Regions from separate parts of the Homo sapiens genome. Here region 1 is linked to region 2. Evidence: fine-mapped expression QTL. Tissue or cell type: whole blood. Region 2 holds a variant in brackets; the other region holds the start of a gene. All regions are shown on one strand. Distances are between the middles of the regions.

Region 1 (6,249 bases), 150 kb before region 2:
CGGCCTCAAATAATCCTCCCATCTTGGCTTCCCAAAGCGCTAGCATTACAGGTGTGAGCCACTGCGCCCAGCCTAGAAATGTTTCCTAGAAATAAAAGCACAAGTTTGTAAACATAAATGTGGAAGGATGTATATGGTGGCATTAACTTAATGCTGACTTTTTTGTTCTTAATTTGGCACAAAAAGGTGTTTATAAGTGCTCTACTTGTTTCTGAACATTTATTTCTCCTCATAGTTAATTCCTAAACAAATCTTATTCCCTTTACCTACAAAATATGTTCTAGATCTGTTCACTCCTCTCTACCAACATTGTTTTTCCTAGTCAATAAACATAGATCAACCTAATAAAAATTGCATAATACTCTTAATTTTGGATATATCATAAATATGCTACCATTGTTTTTTAAGTCTTTTGCTACTATAATTAACAGTATGAATTACAGTGGAGATTTAATGTTTAACTTCAAAAAGACTCCATAGAGTCTGACGAATGCAAACATATTTACAGTAACTTTTCTTACACTCACTAGATTACTTTGATTTTCGGTTTTATTGGCAAGAGTGATTCGTGAAAACCATGACTAGATGAACATTGGAGGAAACATTCCCAAGCATTAATCACTTAATTTTAGTTTTGTACATTTTTTTCTGTCTAATGTTACCTTTGTTGTAAAATTATCTTTTTTTAAGGAATGCTTTGTAAAGCTTAGTTCTAATATTACAGAATTCATAGTTATGTAATTAATCTCAAAATCACTCACCATTGAAGACCCTTGCTATTTTTATTTCCTATAACACGAAGTCTATTATCTCCTTAATAATTTTTAATTTCCATCCTTAGAACTTCTTCAGCTCTGCTACTTTTTCCTTAAGGCCAGGGTCATAGGCAGCACACTGGTGATAACTCACTGTCTAGAAATATTGCATTTTGTTTACAAAGTTATTTTCTATGTTCAGCATTTTGCTGGCTGCCTTGGGTACAGTACCTCAATTGAATGTCTACACCTGCATATTTGTGGACATTGAAATCATCTACCATTTTTCAGAGACACTACCTTGTGATATAAAAAAACAGAAGCCAAAAAAAAAAAAATCCCAAGGAATTTCTGAAGGAGCCTCTCTTCACTACTCTGCTCTTGTTAGAATAATGAGTAACACTGGTATAACATTCTACAATTTACAAGAATATTTATCTGCTTCATGAAACCTCAAAACAAACCTTTGAGACTATCAGGATCCTAACCACTTTACAGATGAAGATAACTTACATAATAGTTATGGGGTTTCCTGGATCTGACTCCTTTATTCTTCACATTACATTATGTTGCCTTCCCCACAACTAATCAAGGACTCCGTTTTTTCTTTTTTCTTTCTCGAAACCATTTCCTCCATATTAGTTCCCTTTGGAATAGAAGCCTTTTTAAAAGTCCACCTTAGTATATCTTCAGGGAATCACAAATTCACTATGCTATTTATAATTCATGAGTTTCTCTAATGGTATCAAGGCAGCAAATACAGGTGAAGTAATAATTATCCACCTGATAGTACTTAACACACATACCCCGTGTAAAAATACTGCTGGTGTACAGTGTGTGTGTTGGTGACGCCGGAGGAAGTGGCCGTGAACAGGCTTAATGCCGCATTGAGTAACTTCAACCTCATCTTGCTCAGGTTCATATCTCTCCTGAATTTCCCCTGGTAAGCGCAAGATTCAGGATCCGTTCTCACAGTTTTTTGTTTACCAGTTGATGTTGGCTGCATTCAGGAACGCCTTGCTCTCTTAAGCCACAGTGCCTTCCTGGTCTCTTCTTCACAGGGTCTTCCACAATCGCTCTTTTTCCTGGGCACGGTGGTTTGCTGAAAGTCGGGGTGGGGGGCGGGGCGTTCCCAAGTTTCCAGGCCAATTACCTACCTGCCTTAGAGCAATTACGCACTTCTCTCTGGTAGTCCCTGAAATGTTCTAATCATCAGATCGCCCCAGCTTCTCCTGACCGTTTCTTGCTTACGGCTCAGTTCAGACAGTATTTGTTCCGGGACGCTCAGCGGGAGGCGGTTTTTACCGGCTCACTCGAGACCCCAATTCCAGGCGCCCTGCAGCTTCCCTCAGACTCCCCGGGACCGTGTTTGGCCTTCCCATTCGTACGCTGCGGCTGCGCTTTCCTCTCGTAACACCACGCTGGCGAACCTGGAAAGGATCAAATAGTCCCACTCGCCAACCTAGCGCGGCGGGACCGGCCCAAAAGGGCCTTTGCAGCCTGCGCATGCGGACTCGGCGGCCGCCACCGACTCCCCGTCTGCTTCCCTCCGGGCGGCAGCCGCGGTTTGGAGCTTGCTGACAGCTCTGCGACCGGCGGGCGCAGCCTCGTCTCGTGCTTCCACGTTATCCTATCAGGGACGGGGCGGGGCGGCGGCCTCCGCAGCCTATCAGCGCGAACCACGACCCCGGCGAGCCCGGGAGGAAAGCCGCCAGAAAGAAGGCGATTGGATGGCGGCGGCGCTCTGGGGCGTAGCGTCGCCCGGGCCCCGCCCACCGCTGCCTTCCTCTGCTGGGCTCCAGAGCCACTGAGGCCTGAGCGAGAGCCGACGGCGGGCGGGCGCAGCTGCTGCCGGAGCGCCGGCGCGTGCTGGTGGGCCACACACCTTTCCTCCTCTTCACTCGCGAGCCCTCGGACATGGTGGCCCCCGGCTCCGTGACCAGCCGGCTGGGCTCGGTATTCCCCTTCCTGCTAGTCCTGGTGGATCTGCAGTACGAAGGTGAGTCCTGCCCTGCCCCGGCCAGGAAGTGGGCTCCCGGACCAGGCCCCCCGCGCTTTCCCGTCTGCGCCCGGGCGCCTGTCCCGGAGCGGCTCGGGAGGTGGGGCGAGCGCTGGGGGAGCCCGCGGCCTGGCTTGGGCCTGAGCCCGCGCCCGGTTCCGGGTTTGTCTGGGGAAGAATCGAGGGGACTGGCGGGCCGCGGGGCCGGGACAGCGGGTTTGGACTAAGGAACCGGGCCGCAGGAGTCGGAGGAGGCGGGGTGCGGGGGCACCGGGCTACGACTTCAGGAAGTCCTGGGACGCGGAGACTTGGGCAGCCTTTGGGTCCTGGCCTCGCTTGGGACCCTCGCTGGGCGCCTGGGGACACTGTCAGTCATTGGTGCTGGCTGGGAGGAGGCACTAAGGTGGCCAAAAGACTTCCTTCGCTCTGGAGTTCTTGGGTGGGGAAGGAGTGTCATGTCCGGCTGGGAGTTGGAGGGGACAGTGTTGACTATTTAAAAAGTGTGTAACCATCCCCATTAAGATGCACTGTCGTGTAGAGAAATTGTTAGTTTGGTGCAATGAGGAGCCGCTGTTGGAATTCCATCTCCCGGACGGCCAGGCACTGAGTTTGTGGTTTTACAACTCCCAACATGGTGTCATTCAACGTATGGCTGGCATTACTTTTCCAAGTTCGCTGTAAAAAGGTTCCCTTAAAAAGATACGAACGATTAAATTTCACTTCAGTCCTGCAGACTGGAATGTTGGCTACTCCAGAATAGCGAAAATAGAGGGCTGTCCTATCTTAGATGGCAGCGGGGAGGAGTAAGAATTAAAGTTGATAGTGCCGATTTAACGAATGCTTCTGGCGCGGTTACTGTGCGAAATATTCGAGTGTAATGACACATCACATGCACTGATCTATTTTCATCCCCATAAAAAGGGCTAGTTGTCAAGGAGGTCAAATTAAACCTTTGAGTATTCCATTCAAAGGGAGCGAGGAACTAAAAATTGGGAATTGTTTATAGTGAATTCTTCTGAAAGTTCTCAACTTTTTTTTTTAAAGTAGTACTCCCCAGTTTTTAGGTGTCACCCATAGCAATGGGCTTTTGCTTTTGCTTCCCCTGGTAACCATATTTTTTGAACCCCAAATCAGAACACGTAGTGTGGCAACATTGGGACAAAGAATTTGACAGTGAGGCTGCCCCCAGAAAAATCTAGGGGATTGGAATTTGAAGGTCTGTACCACTTTAATATGGGTCATATATTCTAGTTCTTTTGCATTTTCAAAAGCTTCATTCCTCCTGCCCCCGCACCCCACCATCCCTCATCTGTAGTATTTATCTCCAGTTATCATTAATAATTTATTTTGGACACTTAAGAGAAAGTTGCCTATGTTCTGTTTAATGGTGATTTTTTTTTTTAAGTTACAGAGATGCACAATTTTGAATGATTGCTTTTCCCACTACTTTTTAGAATTGCTGTTCTGTATATGAGTCTGTAAGGACTCTTAACTCTTCATTTCCCTCCTGTGGTATTTTCCATAAGAAAACCACATTTGAGAGCTTTTCTGTGTAGGAGGCACTGGTGACATTTCTCAGAGGAGTGCCAGAGTGTCTTCTTTAGGACCATTGTCTGTGTAAAATAGCAGGGACTTAGTACAGGTAACAGAAAAAGGAAAGAAAGGAGCCTTTCTGTAAGCCATATCTTATTCACGAAAGCGTGTGGTATTCATTCCTACTTTACAGACCAGGGAACTGAGGCTCCAAAGGTTTTACTAAAGTTCATTTTGTGTGCACGCTGGAGACAGAAGTTAAGTAGTTGACAACATCATGTGAGTCCAAGCACTTTTAAGTGATGGCAGCTGAGAAAAAAAATCAGCACTTTTTTTTTTTTTTTTTTTTTGTAATTAACAAGAAGGTTATTTCCTGGGAGGTTTAATACAGTGGTTCTCAAACTTGAGTGTGCATCAGAATCGCACATGGAGGGCTTTTTAAAACAGAGTGCTGTACCCCACTTACAGAGTTTGATTCATTAGGTCTTGATGGGACCTGAAATTTTGCGTTTCTAGAAAGACCCTGGATGACCACACTTGAGAACCACTGGTGTAATAAATTATATAGAGGAGTTAAATTAGGTGTCTGCTATGTATTTGACACTGGATTTGGTGATAGGGATATAAAGGTAAGAACTCTGACTTGAATTAGCAAACCGTTAGCCCCTGTTTTCCCAAATAAATTGTGTCTGGATTCACTAATCTCATAGTTCTCTGAAAGGCAAATGGTGCTACTGCTAGGCCTGAGGCTTAATAAAATTGTGTTGTATTAAGGATTTTTGTTAAATAGGTAGGTTTTAGCTGCTCTTGTCACACAAAAAGTAATTATGTGAGATGATAGATATATTAATCTGCTTCACTCTTATTAATCTGCTTCACTATTGTAACCATTTTATGTGTGTATATCTCATAATACTATGTTGTAAACATCAAATATATACAATACAATTCACTTTTAAAAAAAGAAATGAAGGAGAATGGTTATGAGAGAAGTGAATGTGGAACTAAGAGTGGCACAGGATGGGGAAGAGATAACCTAGTGTTTTTCTGATTTTGAAATATTTGCCTTTGTTTTCTTCTAGATTTTTCTGTTAATTGTCATCCAGAGACAGAAAGTATATATCATGAATTGAAAGTTTGAGTCTTTTGGCACCCTCCCTTCTCAAAGGCGTTTGAAAGAGTGAAGTCTAAAGCACTAGATGAGATCGAATTTTTGGAATAGAAAGAAAACTTTAGTAGTATCTGCTTTAGTATTCTCATGTTACAGATAAGGAAGTTATTTCATTTCTTTGCTAATGGTTTGTCCTCTTGGTGACTTGAGTAGCAACACAGCCTGGGAACGAAACCTTTTTTCTCTTATCATAGTTTTATCTCTTTTTCTTCCTTAACATGCTATCTGGACCCAATTTTTCTTTATTTCATTGAGCTGATTAAACCATATATTTTGGCCATGGGGAAAAGAATAGTTGAAAATATATAGTTGAAAATCTATACGTATAAAATATTGTGATAAGTTTTATTTGAACCATGATAAGTTTTATTTGAACCTAACCTATTAAAGGTATGTTTTGTCTTTTCTAGGATTTTCTTGACATTATCTAAATAGGGAAAGAATAAAGTAGCAAAAATGAGTGACTTTAAGTAATTTAAATAAATTAAGTATCATAAAAGGTGGTCACATATTTTCTAGAATTATTTTAAATTCTTTAATAAGATAGGCTGTAGTTAGCAGTAGTATCAAAGTTCCAGTTCTCTTGACATAGTTAGTATTTGCTGAGAAACTGCCTGGAAATGCAGTGGTTTTCATTCTGTGAGGTAGGGGAAGTTGTTCTGGGAGGGGATGCACTGTAGTAATTAGGTTTTATTTTCCCATATGAAGTTAATTAATTGTTGTTAAGTTTAATTTCTACTGCTGTGGTCTCTTTTGATTAGTGTCCTGCAGTTAATCTTTGTTTATATGGA
Region 2 (7,893 bases):
TTGATCCTTTTATCATTATATAATGACCTTGTCTTTTTTCACTGCTGATGCCTTAAAGTCTGTTTTGTCTGATATAAGAATAGCTACGCCTGCTTGCTTTGGTTTTCATTTGTGTAGCTTATCTTTTCCATCCCTTTACCTTGAATTTATGTGAATTCTTATATGTTAGTTAAGTCTCCTGAAGAAAGCAGATATTTGGATTGTGATTTTTAAATTCATTCTGCCATTCTATATCTTTTAATTGGAGCATTTAGGCCATTTACATTCAATGTTAATAGAGATATGGGGTAATGTTCTATTCATCAATATTAGTTGTTACCTAGATAAACTGTTGTTGTTGTGTTAGTTTTACAGGCTCTGTGAGTTTTTTATTTTTTATTTTTTGCTTTTAAGAAGTTCTATTTTAGTGCATGTTGAACTTTTGTTTCAGGATTTAGAACTTCTTTTAGCATTTCCTATAGTGCTGGTTTGGTAGTAGCAAATTCCCTGAGCATGTGTTTCTCTGAAAATGACTTCATTTCTCTTTCGTTTATGAAAGGTTTTAGTTTTACTGGATTTATTCATTTTGCTGGATACAAAATTCTTGACTAACAGTTATTCTGTTTAAGGAGGCTAAAGATAGGACCCCATTTCCCTTCTAGCTTATAAGGTTTCTGCTGAGAAGTCTGCTGTTAGTCGGATAGGTTTTCTCTTACAGATTATTTGATGCTTTTGTCTCACAGCTCTTAGAATTCTTTCCTTCTAGTTGATTTTAGATACCTGACAACTGTGTGCTTCGGTGATGATCTTTTCATAATGAAATTTCCGAGGAGTTCTTTGAGCTTCTTGTATTTGGATATCTAAATCTCTAGCAAGGCCAGGGATGTTTTCCTCAATTATTCCCTCAAATAAGTTTTGCAAACTTCTAGCCTTCTCTTCTTCCTCAGGAACACCAATTATTCTTAGGTTTGGATGTTTTACATAATCCCATATTTCTTAAAGACTTTCTTCATTTCTTTTGATTCCTTTTTATCTTTGTCTTATTGGATTAATCAAAAGCCTATCTTTGAGCTCTAAAATTCTTTTGTCTACATGTTGTAGTCTATTGTTGAACCTTTCCATGGCATTTTATAGTTCCCTAAGCATGTCTTTCATTTCCAGAGTTCTGATTGATTTTTCTTTATATCTCTCTAGAAAATTTTTCATTCATATCCTGAATTTTAAAAAAATTATGTTGGTTTTCACCTTTCTGTGGTATCTCCTTGAGTAGTGTAATAATCTTCTAAATTCTTTATCTGGTATTTCAAAGATTACATCTTGGTTTGGATCCACTGCTGGAGAGACCGTGTGATCTTTTTTGGGGGTGTTAAAGAACACTGTTTTGTCATATTACCAGAATTACTTTTCTGGTTCCTTCTCATTTGGGTATACTATTTCTTCTAATTGTTCTTTATTTTTTATTTGACAGCATTTTTAATTTCTTCTTTCCCCCTTAAGAATGTGAGTTTAATGTTTATTATAGCTTAATTTGGTTATTTGTGCTTTTGGGAGTGAAGACTCTATGAATTCCTTGGTTGTGGAGAGTCTTTCTATGATGGCTTCCTCAGATGTGGTTGTAATAGTCATGTACTCAGTGTGTTGGCAAGTTTGCTATCTCCTATGGAATTGTAATGGCAGAGGTCTCTTGAAGCTTACCTCATTCCCCTGTGGTGTGCACTTTTTAATTTAATTTCTCCCCAGTATTTTATTTACTGAGTTGATGGTTCAGGCTTCAGGATAGGAGTGGTATCCCTGGGTAGGAACCTGTTGTAGCTAAAGCAGGTGGTAAATGTAATATCCAATGGTGGACAGAGGTACCAGCCTTGATGAAGGTGGCTGAGGGAGCTCTCAATTAGATGCACTGATGTCTTAACAAGGGGAAGAGTGAGAGCCACCTCAGCTTCCTTGCCAGGCCAAGCAAGAAAGCTATCCAACTCCCAGACTCACTCTTATCCCAGTGGTCCAGCTATTCAGGTATTTTTATCTGTAGGCATGTTGATGTTCTAAGGAGAGAGGAATTGTGACTGCCTCTTGTGCAAGCCTGAACCTGGAGGATACCTCTCCTGCGGCAATGCAGTCACCCTGAAGTGTTCCAGGAAGGCTGTCTATAGGTTCAGCCACACTGAGCTCCTGTGGGAGAAGCCCCAGCTGTGTCTGCAGTGGTGGACAAGGTGGGAAAGGTCTTCTCCAAGACCCTCCAAGAGCACCAAGTCTGCCTGAATGTTGGGGTACAGCTCCAGACTTTTTCCTGCTGAGCCTAGCACTGCAATTATGTCTCTGCTGAAAGAAACTCCCACCAGCAGAAAGATCTGGGACTCAAGGCCTGTTGTCTGAATTCTTTTGTCCCACAGGTTGCTCCCTTGATGTGGTGCTCTTCCCCTTCTCCTAGGAGTAGGAGTCTCTGAGAACCAGACTACAGTGATTGCTACTGCTCTTCTGTGTCCAGCCAACCTGTAGGGCCAAGTGGAGTTTATTCTAGGAATACAAGGATGCTTCAATATTAGAAAAAATGATTCGATATTAGGAAATATATTAATATAGTTATAGATTATAATTTATAATAAACTACAAATAATGTTGTAGTTTATAATCTATAAGTTGAAAAATTATGTGTCACCTCTATTTCTGTTGAATAAGTTGATAAAATGCAACCAATTCAACCCATCTTTGATAAAAATATTAAAATAGGAATCAATGGTTATTTCCTCAAGATGATAAAAATATTCTTCTTCAGTCCAACACTATTATCTTAACGGGGAAACATAGAAGTTGGTCAACCACAGTAAGGAAAAAGGCCTACTACCACCACTTTATTATTTAACACCGTATTAGATGTATAAGTCAAAGCAAGTAAAATAAACAAACAAACAAACAAAAACAGTGTGATGTACAATGATCAGAAAGGAAAAGGGAAAACCATCTTTATTTGGAGATAAGATGTGGGTATTCCTGGAAAAACCCAAGAGAATAAGCTGAAACATTACTACAACCAATATAAAAATTCAGTATGATCATGGGAAATAAAGATCCATGTATAGAAAGTAGTCTTTATGTACAAGCAACCACCAGTAAGAAGATATTCTTCAAGAGAAAAATTCCATTTATAACAGTAGCAAAGAAAAGCTTAAACTATATATATATATAAGCTATATGATTAAAATGTTATGATTCTTGAGGAAAACTGGACTTGAATATATAGAAAGACAATGTATTCTGAGACAGTAGTTTCCATGAAGATGTCAATTCTCTCAAGCCAACTAATTAATGTAATCCTTTCTCTGACCATCCCACACAGCCCCCCAAGAAAAACACAGAAAATTTTCTGAAACTAAGTTGATTCTAAGGCTTGTATGGAAAAAAAACAAGAATACACAGAAAAACAACAAAAAAGAAGAGTAATAAGGAAAGGCTAGCCTTACTTGATATTAAAACATAATATAAGTCCTTAATAATTAAAGTGGTATGTACTTGGCACATGTATAGACAGAGACCAATGGAACGGAATAAAAAGGGCCAAACAAGACATCCTAATATTGGAATTTAATATATGATAAAGATGGCAATACAAATGTGTGGAACAGAAATTAATTTCTTCCAGTGTCAGGCAACAATCCTCTAGAAAAAAACAGGCAAATGACAAGAACAGCGGAAGAAATACTAATGGCCTTTAAATATATGACAAGATTCTTAACTCCACCCATGTTATGGGTTTAATTCATATTTCAAAAATACATGAATTTTGGTCCCCACAAAATTTACAAGAATTCTAACTTCTGGTATCTCCAAATGTATCCTTATTTGGAGGCAGGATCTTTACAGAGGAAATCAAGTTAAAATAAGGTCATAAGCGTAGACCCTAATCCAATATGACAGGTGTCCTAACTGAACAAGGACAGAGAATGTGAAGACAATGTGAAGACACATAAGGAAAAGAAAGCCATTTACAAACCAAGGAGAGACGTCTGTGTTAAATTCTTTCCTCGCAGCCCTCAGAAGGTATCAACCCTGTGGACACCTTCATCTTGGACTTTCAGCTTCCAGAACTGTGAGACAATAAATGTCCAGTTTAAGCCAGCCAGTTTGTGGAACTGTGTTATAGCAGCCCTAGCAAACTAATATAATGAAAAAGAGAAATGTAAATTATAAAAGATATACTATATCTCAAGCCATCCTTATAGAGTTAAACAAGAATTCTGGACAGAAGTATGGTTAACTATTAGTCAGGCAGCACTTTGACCCACTTCCTTGTAACTGAAAGTTACTTAGCACTAGATACTGACCATTTGCATCCCCATTGTTCTTGTGGATGGGATTTCTGACATCAGAATCATAAGGCTTTTAAGAATTGCCTAAGCAGATCGTGAGTTCCAGCAGAACAGCTGACACCAACCAGTTTGAAGATCCCCACAAAGTAACCAATTCAGCATGAGAATATAGTTTCTTCATCTCCCTATACCACGACTTCACCTTGCACTCTTCGACCAATCAATGCTCTCCATACTCTGGC[C/T]CCCTCCAAAACCCTTAAAAATCACTAGTCACAAACTGCTCAGGGACACAGACTTGAGTTTTCATTCTGTTTCCTCATTTGGCAGCCCTATGATTAAACCTCTCTCTCTGCTGCAACCTGGACATATCAGAATCTCTGGGACACACTTAAAGCAGTGTGTAGAGGGAAATTTATAGCACTAAATGCCCACAAGAGAAAGCAGGAAAGATCTAAAATTGATACCCTAACATCACAATGAAAAGAACAAGCTAAGCAAGAGCAAACGCATCCAAAAGCTAGCAAAAGACAAGAAATAACTAAGATCAGAGCACAACTGAAGGAGACAGAGACACAAAAAACCCTTCAAAAAATCAATGAATTCAGGAGCTGGTTTTTTGAAAAGATCAACAAAATTGACAGACCGCTAGCAAGGCTAATGAAGAAAGGAGAGAAGAATCAAATAGATGCAATAAAAAATGATAAAGGGGATATCACCACTGATCCCACAGAAATACAAACTACCATCAGAGAGTATTATAGACAACTCTACGCAAATAAACTAGAAAATCTAGAAGAAATGGATAAATTCCTGGATACATGCACCCTCCCAAGACTAAACCAGGAAGAAGTTGAATCCCTCAATAGACCAAGAACAGACTCTGAAATTGAGGCAATAATTAAGAGCCTACCAACCAAAAAAAACTCCAGGACCAGACGGATTCACAGTCCTATTCTACCAGAGGTGCAAAGAGAAGCTGGTTCCATTCCTTCTGAAACTATTCCAATTAATAGAAAAAGAGGGAATCCTCCCTAACTCAATTTATGAGGACAGCATCATCCTGATACCAAAGACTGGGAGAGTCACAACAACAAAAGATAATTTTAGACCAATATCCCTGATGAACATCAATGCAAAAATCTTCAATAAAATACTGGCAAACCAAACCCAGAAGCACATCAAAAAGCTTATCCACCATGATCAAGTGGGTTTCATCCCTGGAATGCAAGGCTGGTTCAACATACACAAATCAATAAACGTAATCCAGCATATAAACAGAACCAAAGACAAAAACCACATGATTGTGTCAACAGATGCCGAAAAGGTCTTTGACAAAATTCAACAGCCCTTCATGCTAAAAACTCTCAATAAATTAGGTATTGATGGGACGTATCTCAAAATAATAAGAGCGATTTATGACAAACCCACAGCCAGTATCATACTGAATGGGCAAAAACTGGAAGCATTCCCTTTGAAAACTGGCACAAGACAGGGATGCCCTCTCTCGCCACTCCTATTCAACATAGTGTTGGAAGTTCTGGCCAGGGCAATCAGGCAGGAGAAAGAAATAAAGGGTATTCAATTAGGAAAAGAGGAAGTCAAATTGTCCCTGTTTGCAGATGACATGATTGTATATTTAGAAAACCCCATCGTCTCAACCCCAAATCTCCTTAAGCTGATAAGCAACTTCAGCAAAGTCTCTGGATACAAAATCAATGTGCAGAAATCACAAGCATTCCTATACACCATTAACAGACAAAGAGAGAGCCAAATCATGAGTGAACTCCCATTCAGAATTGCTACAAAGAGAATAAAGTACCTAGGAATCCAACTTACAAAGGATGTGAAGGACCTCTTCAAAGAGAACTACAAACCACTGCTCAAAGGAATAAAAGAGGACACAAACAAATGGAAGAACATTCCATGCTCATGGACAGGAAGAATCAGTATTGTGAAAATGGCCACACTGCCCAAGGTAATTCATAGATTCAGTGGAAAAAACTACTTTAAAGTTCATATGGAACCAAAAAACAGCCTGCATTGCCAAGACAATCCTAAGCCAAATGAACAAAGCTGGAGGCATCATGCTACCTGACTTTAAACTACACTACAAGGCTACAGTAACCAAAACAGCATGGTACTGGTACCAAAACAGAGGTATAGACCAATGGAACAGAACAGAGCCCTCAGAAATAATACCACACATCTACAACCATCTGATCTTTGACAAACCTGACAAAAACAAGAAATGGGGAAAGGATTCCTTATTTAATAAATGGTGCTGGGAAAACTGGCTAGTCATATGTAGAAAGCTGAAACTGGATCCCTTCCTTACATCTTATAGAAAAATTAATTCAAGATGGATTAAAGACTTAAATGTTAGACCTAAAACCATAAAAACTGTAGAAGAAAACCTAGGCAATACCATTGAGGACACAGGCATGGGCAAGGACTTCATGACTAAAACACCAAAAGCAATGGCAACAAAAGCAAGAATTGAGAAATGGGAACTAACTAAACTAAAGCGCTTCTGCACAGCAAAAGAAACTATCGTCAGAGTGAGCAGGCAACCTACAGAATGGGAGAAAATTTTTGCAATCTACCCATCTGACAAAGGGCTAATATCCAGAATCTACAATGAACTTAAACAAATTTACAAGAAAAAATCAAACAACCCCATCAAAAAGTGGGTGAAGGATATGAAGACACTTCACAAAAAACGATATTTATGCAGCCAACAGACACATGAAAAGATGCTCATCATCACTGGTCATTAGAGAAATGCAAATCAAAACCACAATGAGATACTGTCTCACACCAGTTAGAATGGCAATCATTAAAAAGTCAGGAAACAACAGATGCTGGAGAGGATGTGGAGAAATAGGAACACTTTTACAGTATGGTAAGGCTGTAAACTAGTTCAACCATTGTGGAAGTCAGTGTGGCGATTCCTCAAGGATCTAAAACTAGAAATACCATTTGACCCAGCCATCCCATTACTGGGTATATACCCAAAGGATTATAAATCATGCTGCTATAAAGACACATGCACACATATGTTTATTGCGGCACTATTCACAATAGCAAAGACTTGGAACCAACCCAAATGTCCAAAAATGATAGACTGGATTAAGAAAATGTGGCACATATACACCACGGAATACTATGCAGCCTTAAAAAAGGATGAGTTCATGTCCTTTGTAGGGACATGGATGAAGCTGGAAACCATCATTCTCATCAAACTATCACAAGGACAGAAAACCAAACACCGCCTGTCCTCACTCATAGGTGGGAAATGAACAATGAGAACACCTGGACACAGGGTGGGGAACACCATACACTGGGGCTTGTTGTGGGGTGGGGGTAGGGGGTGGGATAGCATTAGGTGACATATCCAATGTAAATGACGAGTTAGTGGGTGCAGCACACCAACATGGCACATGTATACATATGTAACAAACCTGCACATTGTGCACATATACCCTAGAACTTAAAGTATAATAATAATAAAAAAAAATCTCTTTTGTAAAACTTCTCTCCCTTACTTATATACATATCTATACACAAACACATACATACAGACCTATGATTTTTCTTTAATGGAAACGAG

Evidence for each region. PIP is the estimated chance that this variant, and not a neighbour inherited with it, causes the effect.
Region 1: it holds the start of DNAJC3, and the variant in region 2 is fine-mapped to the expression of DNAJC3 in whole blood (INTERVAL, PIP 0.99).

Annotation. Positions count from the first base shown.
Region 1 is chr13:95,674,584-95,680,832 of GRCh38, forward strand. DNAJC3 (DnaJ heat shock protein family (Hsp40) member C3) reads left to right here and starts at 2,556. Exons shown (of 12, transcript NM_006260.5): 1 at 2,556-2,754. The coding sequence starts at 2,673. DNAJC3-DT (DNAJC3 divergent transcript) reads right to left here and starts at 2,342. Exons shown (of 2, transcript NR_132117.1): 1 at 1,269-2,342; 2 at 1-85. RefSeq lists enhancers at 1,646-2,493, 1,757-1,856, 2,494-3,340, 2,687-2,736 and silencers at 2,377-2,616, 2,847-2,936.
Region 2 is chr13:95,823,492-95,831,384 of GRCh38, forward strand. The region is part of intron 38 of UGGT2 (UDP-glucose glycoprotein glucosyltransferase 2); the gene reads right to left. Among named protein-coding and RNA genes, the nearest start is that of DNAJC3, 150 kb to the left of the region's middle. The variant C/T (reference allele first, on the strand shown) is at 4,526.